2 linked regions of the Homo sapiens genome follow. The protein of the gene in region 1 interacts with the protein of each later gene in a pairwise test. Each region holds a gene or a part of one and is shown on either strand. Other genes may lie near its edges.

Region 1 (3,747 bases):
CTGCGATACCTGTTTATTATTCAGTCAACAGGCATCTGTTGAGCTCCTACTCTGAGCCAGGCATTGCACAGGGGCTCAAGACACAGCACCCAGCCCAGGAGCACAGCAGCCAAAGGCCCTGCATGCAGGTCTGCCTTCAGTTAAAAACCAAGAGTCCCCAAAGAATACTGCTTAAGCAGTCACTAAACTATTTAAGATAAATAGTAAAGATTTCCCCACAAGGAAGATTTATGTCCCCCAAAAATTTATGTTGCAGCTTATTGAAGAGCTCCCCATTTGTCCCTTCCACCCAAGAAAATGTCTGAGAAGAGGAACGCTAAACTGCAACAGGGCTTCTGCTGAAGATCTACAGCTCCTCCCTCCCCCATTTTACAGGTAAGGAAACTGAGGATCAGAATGGTCAAATGCTCCTGTGGGTGGGTAATGGCAAAACCAAGTAGAATCCGGGTCCTGACACTCAGTCTGAGTTTCCTTCCACTATAGCAAAACATCCCCACTAAAAGCATCAGTGGGTGCATCAAATTACATTTTAATACAAAATTCTTCAAAAGTAAAGTAGTAGCCCATCTACTACAATGCTCCTTCTGGCTGTCAGTCTCTGTAAGAAAATTAGGACTGCTGAGTACCTAACACATGTTTTGAATCTATCACCTCTGGCTGGGCACGGTGGCTCACACCTGTAATCCCAGCACTTTGGGAGGCTGAGGCGGGCGGATCACCTGAGGTCAGGAGTTCGAGACCAGCCTGGCCAACATGGCAAAACCCCATCTCTACTAAAAATACAAAAAAAAAATTTGCCGGGCGTGGTGGCAGGAGCCTGTAATCCCAGCTACTTGGGAGGTTGAGGCAGGAGAATCAGTTAAATCCGGGAGATGGAGGTTGCAGTGAGCCATGAGCCAAGATCATGCCATTGTACTCCAGCCTGGACAAGAGCGAAACTCCATCTCAAAAAAAAAAAAAAAAAAAAAAAAAAAGAATCTATCACCTCTGAAACTTTCTCAGTCTGCAAATTGTCAATAGCTTATCTACATATTTTTATGTTAAGTCTAAAATATGGGATTTTACTTACTCTCAAAAAACGCTGTGTGTTTTACTCCTTACATTTTTAAGCAGGTTATGGCAAAATACACTGAAATAACCAGTCACTTGTCAAACAGATTATCCAACTATAACTCTTGCCACTTTTTGTTCCAAGATGATCTCTTAAAAAAATAATTTTAAAGAGCCAGCAGAATTCTCAAACTACCCCCTCCAAACTAATGCACCTTCCTAACAGTAATTCTGAATCTCAAAAGGTAGCAATCAGATTTGGAGATTCAGCAAGTTGCACGTGGAGAGTTCTACACTTATCATTCAGCCCAGGCACAACAAATGAACTATCATTAACCATCATAAAGGCTTAATGTAATTGCAAGTTGATGATCTCTGTTAACAGAAAAAACATTCTTGCTACACTTGAAAAGGTAAAAACATTGGGAGTCTGAATTATGTTTACTAACATGAGGATGGCAAGAAAAAATTTCCTTCAATAGAATAATTATGCTTATTCAGTCACTGTAAGCAGAAACATCAGAATCCATTGATTGCTAGTGGTAATTGTCAAAAAAGGATAGGAAGAGCTTCTAGACATGACAGTCCTCTTTGTTGTAGTGACACTATTGAGCAGGGGTTTCATGCTTAGCACAGGTCCTGGGTTGTCCTTGAACCAAGGAGATGCTGACACTTGGCCTGCCCACGCCCCTCTCCTCCATGTCAGATGTCAGGTGCCCACCCAGTAGGAGAGGCTATTTCTGTTTCTAGGCCCATTTCCAGAACCAGGGGTGTGTTTTTGAAGTCCAGACAAGAGTTGTCCTGTTAATTGACAGCTGCAGAGCAGACAGAGAGCCCACGCTGGGTACAGATTACCTACCTAAGAACTGGCTGGGGCCTTGCTACCAGGCTGGCTGTCAGCTAACAGGCCACCTTGCTCTGGCCTCAGAAGCAGGTTCTCCTGCTGAGATTGTGCACCTGCCCAATGCTGACAGCTGGGCTATGGAGGAGCCCAAACTTAGTGTTTGGGCTTCAGGCAAGGAAGCTCCTCCTCCAGAGCGATGGTGGTAGCCAGCTGTCTTGAAACAATACTTTATTTACAGACTTGCATCTTATTTCAGCTAAAATTTCAGGTTCTGATGAAAATTTCACCATCATTTCTTTAAATAATTCTTTAAAAATCTGAGCACCATTGTTGAGTGCATACTACCAAGACTTTACTTGTTTTCTGTAATCCTAGTGACAGTAATCTGTTTATGATTCCATCAGGTCCTTAACAAAGTAAAAAAGCAGCTGTTTAATATATAACACAGCATGAAAACAGCAACACCACAGTAGCAACCCTGAAAAGAAGCATTAAAATTTTCACCTACATTTTAAGTAGATTTTAAAAACTTCCAGGAGAATGAAACACATACAAGAAAGAACCTTTTGCGAATATAGAAAAAATTAAAAAGAGAAGGAAAAGCTGGGGAATCTGCTGACTACTCTTGACTTTCATTTTTTTGTGTGTCATTCTTTAGAAAATTCAAGAAAAGCTTACACATCAGACTAACACACTAGCGTGTACAAAAAACAATCCTGCTTGAGTTGACTATGAAACAGTAAACATAAAACGGAGCTGTAAATGGAATACATTGGGGGCCATATATGAGATGGCTTTAAAGCTAAAACTAAAACAATTTAAGGCCAGGCGTGGTGGCTCATGCCTGTAATCCCAGGACTTTGGGAGGCTGAGGTGGGTGGATCACCTGAGGTCAGGAGTTTGAGACCAGCCTGGCGAAATCCCATCTCTACTGAAAATACAAAAATTAGCTGGGTGTGGAGGGGGATGCCTATAATCCCAGCTACTGGGGAGGCTGAGGCAGAAGAACTGCTTGTATCTGGGAGGCAGAGGTTGCAGTGAGCCGAGATAGTGCCACTGCACTCCAGTCTGGGTGACAGAGCAAGACTCCATCTCAAAAAAAAATTAATTAAAAAAAACTAAAACAATTTTTTTGTCACTTAAAAGCCCTTATGGATCATCTTAATCAGTGTTCGGACTACCCTATAAATGCTGTAAACAGTGAGACAACTGTCAAAGTCCCATGGGCCAAATATTTCCAAACAGAATCATGATGCTCAAACTCCCTGAAGTCTCATTTAATAATTATAGTATCAAGCATCCAAGATATCTTTTCATAGCAAATCCATTCATTACAAATCATTATCCACAAACATTTTGCCTACTGGGTGGCCAACAATGTTTCCTTTATCCAGAAAAATAAACATTCTACATAAAAAAAACAAGCATAGGAAATGCACGTATACATGTCTATATCTTTGATGGTCAAAGCTACTTTAGCAAAAACCATCTAAACTGGACAGCAAAGCCAAAAGATCAATAATCTGGGAATGTCAAAATCTTCTGGGCCACCAACCTGACAGGTAAAATACAAGCCTTATTTAACCTGACAGTTAAATAAGCCTTATTTAACTCATTACACTCCATGCTGGTTTCCTCTATTCTGACAGCCGCCCTGTCTACTGTCTTCCAGGACTATCTCCATCTACTTTATTCGTGGGTAAAGAAAACACCAGTGCTACACCAGGCAAAGAAAATCCTAGTTTCTCCCAAGCTATTAGGCACATTCATCCTCCTGTGGAAAACACAATGTAGGCAGCCCACTGTCTCTCTCAAATGTTCCCATAGTTTCAGTCTACATTGAACTTGTTCCT
Region 2 (3,747 bases), on another chromosome or scaffold:
TGAAACCCTGTCTCTACTAAAAATACAAAAAATTAGCCAGGCATGGTGGCAGGCGCCTGTAGTCCCAGCTACTCAGGAGGCTGAGGCAGGAGAATCACTTGAACCCAGGAGGCAAAGGTTGCAGTGAGCCGAGATCATGCCACTGCACTCTAGCCTAGGCAACAGAATGTGACTCTGTCCCAAAAAAAAAAAAAAAAAAAAAAAAAGGAAATACAAAAATTAGCCAGGCCCAGTGGCGTGCGCCTATAATACCAGCTACTCAGGAGGCTGAGGCACAAGAATCTCTTGAACCTGGGAGGCAGAGGTTGCAGTGAGCTGAGATCGTGCCATTGCACTCCAGCCTGGGAGACAGAGCGAGACCCGGTCTCAAAATTAATTAATTAATTAATTAATTAATTAGCTGGGCACAGTGGCACACACCTGCAGTCCCAGATAGGAGGCTGAGGTGGGAGGATCACTTGAGCCCAGGAGCTCGAGGCTGCTGCGAGACGTGATTGTTCCACTGCACTCCAGCCTGGGCAACAGAGCAACACCTTGTCTCAAAAAATTGATTCATCTTCATCCACCCAAGCAGCCCAAACCTGAAAAGCCAGGCTCCCAGGGAGGCACAGTTATTGCCACGTGTCTCAGAAAATCGAAGACGGAGATCACAGCAGGAGTTTCACAAGGTTTTGGGTTGTTTTCGGGTTATTTCTTAAGATAAGAAATAGCAAGTTTTAAGAGGCAATCCATAGGAAAATGTGACAGAAAAAGTGAAAAAAAAAGTTGCTATAAGTAATACGGCCTCCTCGGAAATGGACATTTTTGCAGCTTTCTGCCTAAAAATTGTTTTTTCTTTATTCCCAGAATTTGTTGACCCTTCGCAAGACCTACCTTGATACTCATTTCACTAGATAAAAAAAATCAGCGGGAGACTCTTATAATCATTGTTTCCTTGTTCATTTTCAGAACAAACAGGAAGGAGCTCTGAAAGGTAAGAGAATATCCCCAGGCCAAAATGACCCTCTGAAAATCAAAGCCCAAAGTCTCGGGGCTATGAAGACAAAGTAGAAGAAAGGGAAAAGAGAAAAGGGGAGGAAAGAAAGAAAAGAGAAAAGGACACAGGTCATGGTGCCAGGAATTTGGAAACTGGCCACCTCGGCAATTTTGAGATGCCGGTGGGCTGGGGAGAGGGTGTCCTGGGGGACTGGCCCGGCTGAACCACCAGGCCAGCTTCTCTGCCTGGTGGAGCTAACCCGACCACCGCCTGCCTCCTGCTCCACCCTCAGACACGTACGGCTTGGACTCGTGGGGGTTGGGGTTGGGCACAGGGTCCGTGAGCCGCAGCTCGAACTCGGCGCAGCGCAGGTGCGTCTCGCGGTAGTGCTGGATGAGGGCATAGATGCTGCTGAAGGTGAGGTTGTCAGTCAAGTAGTATTTCAGGGTCCCGCCCTCCATGGTGGAGCGGATCCGGCAGTGCTGGACCCGGCCTGACCGCCTGCGGGGAGAGGACGCCATCAGTGCTGGGAGAACGCAGGCCAGGCCATTGCGGCAGCCAGGGCCTCAGAGGCGGGGACATTACATGTGGCCACACAACCTTCCCTCTGCTCCTAGAACAGACACAGGAGGCTGGGCGCAGTGGCTCATGCCTGTAATCCCAGCACTTTGGGAGGCCGAGACGGGTGGATCACCTGAGATTAGGAGTTCCAGACCAGCCTGGCCAATACAGTGAAATCTCGTCTCTACTAAAAATACAAAAATTAGCTGGGCATGGTGGTGCATGCCTGTAATCCCAGCTACTTGGGAGGCTGAGGCAAGAGAATCACTTGTACCTGGGAGACGAAGGTTGCAGTGAGCCGAGATCACGCCACTGCACTCCAGCCTGGGCGACAGAGCGAGACTCCATCTCAACAACAACAACAACAAAACCAGATGCAGGGCCTTAGTATAGGCTAGACCCTCAGCCTGGATTCCAGAACATTCTACCTACTTCCCCCACCCCACCCCACCCCATCCCCCTTTTATATATATAACTGCTTCTCTAGAGCCAGGATGCCTGGATTCAAATCCCAGCTCTGCCACATATGAACCAAGTGTCCTGGAGCAGGTCACCCGTGCTGTCTGAGCCACACTGTATTACTACCCCAGCGGTCTGACAGGAATGATAACAGTATCCACCTCAAAGAGGCATCCTGAAGAGTAAACGAGACCACACACACAAGGTGTCTCGAATACTGCCCAGCACATGGTAAGCATCATTTAGGTGTCCAGGATTATTTGCGTGTTATTAGTATTCTAATTTTCAGCCAGGTGCAATGGCTTACAGCTGTAATCCTAGCACTTCAGGAGGCCGAAGCCAGAGGATTGCTTGAGCTGAGTTCAAAACCAGCCTGGGCAACGTAGTGAGACTCCAGCTCTACAAAAAATTTAAAAGTTATTCAGGTGTCGTGGCATGTGCCTGTAGTCCCAGCTACTTAAATGGCTGAGATAGGAGGGTTGCTTGAGCCCAGGAGTTTGAGGCTGCAGTGACTGAGACTGCTCCATTGTACTACAGCCTAGGCAACAGAGCAAGACCCTATCACAATTTTTTTTTAAGTGACAGAATTATAATTTCCCTCTTTCAGGTCTCATCTTCTTTCAGGAAGGTTTTCCTAACCATTCCCCACGTCAGGGCATCAGAGCCTTCCTCACAGACTTTCACAAATCCCCCCAACTCACATTAAACCCCCCCAATAAAGGGAGGGATGTCCCTTTATGTTGCCTTGTTTCATTGCACTCATCACAACTATACTTGCAAATCATTTGAGTGACTGCTTTTTCATTGCCCATCTCCTTCAAAAGACGCTAGTGTCCAGGAGGACAAAGACATTGTCTGTCTGGCATAAGTACTGTGTCTAGCACAGGGCACGCCCTCAAGAAGTATCTTTTAATGCACTGAGACATGGATAAGTGGGTGGATGAATGAATGCACAAGCTCATCACAGCCTATGACGGCTTCAAAAGGACAGCCCTAGAGTCCTCGTTTTATGGAGGAGACAGAGATGCTAGAAGGTTGGCTGAATCATCCAGAGCCACATGACCCACTCCAGGGCTGGGATCGGGGAAAGTGAGTGAGACCACATCATCTAAGAGTAGGGTCAGATCTTGTCTTTGTTTAAAATGTTCATATTTTGTTCATCACAGACTTTTTTGCATTACTTTTGATTTTTTAAAAGATTGCCCTGAAATCTCATTAATCTGGGTTACAGTGCCGAAGTGAGTCATACCCACCTCACCCTTGTCCCGGCCTAGAAGAGCTAGACAAATGAAGCCTGGGATTCAGGTCCCAGCCTGCCCAATTCCTGCCTGAGCTAGAACCACTCGCCACCCTGCCTCATCGGTTGGCATGGAGAAGAAGGTAGGCGTTCCCTGGGTCGGGGGCATTACCAGAAGGACAGGGTGTAGTCATTGGGGAAGGTCTCGCTCTCCCGAACCAGGAAGGTGCCATCCTTGCCCCCCGTCTCCATGCAGTATTCCTGCAGCAACTTCTCGGCACTCGTCCTCTTCTCCACCTTCTTGTGGAACCATTTCTCCCCAAAATGTAGTTCTGTAGGGGGTATATCCTGGGCCGCAAAGAGAGGAGGGGTTTCTGAAAGCCTTGGACCAAACCCCAGCATCACTAGACAGGTCCTTCTGTCTCACCCTGACCCAGGGTACCAGATAACATAGAGAGGCCAGCCTCAGCTGGTCCCCACCCGAAGGGGTATGGGAAAACAGCACCTGCTACCC

The links. The genes of interacting proteins can lie anywhere in the genome.
Region 2: the proteins of GAB1 (region 1) and PLCG2 interact in binary tests that used the Homo sapiens proteins (3 or more experiments, as listed by UniProt).

What each region holds. Positions count from the first base shown.
Region 1 is NC_000004.12:143,339,771-143,343,517, reverse strand, and holds part of GAB1 (GRB2-associated-binding protein 1), read right to left. Parts: intron 59-3,747; exon of another isoform or gene 1-58. UniProt on the Homo sapiens protein: Adapter protein that plays a role in intracellular signaling cascades triggered by activated receptor-type kinases. Plays a role in FGFR1 signaling. Probably involved in signaling by the epidermal growth factor receptor (EGFR) and the insulin receptor (INSR).
Region 2 is NC_000016.10:81,908,250-81,911,996, reverse strand, and holds part of PLCG2 (1-phosphatidylinositol 4,5-bisphosphate phosphodiesterase gamma-2), read right to left. Parts: intron 3,582-3,747; coding exon 3,406-3,581; intron 1,478-3,405; coding exon 1,277-1,477; intron 1-1,276. UniProt on the Homo sapiens protein: The production of the second messenger molecules diacylglycerol (DAG) and inositol 1,4,5-trisphosphate (IP3) is mediated by activated phosphatidylinositol-specific phospholipase C enzymes. It is a crucial enzyme in transmembrane signaling.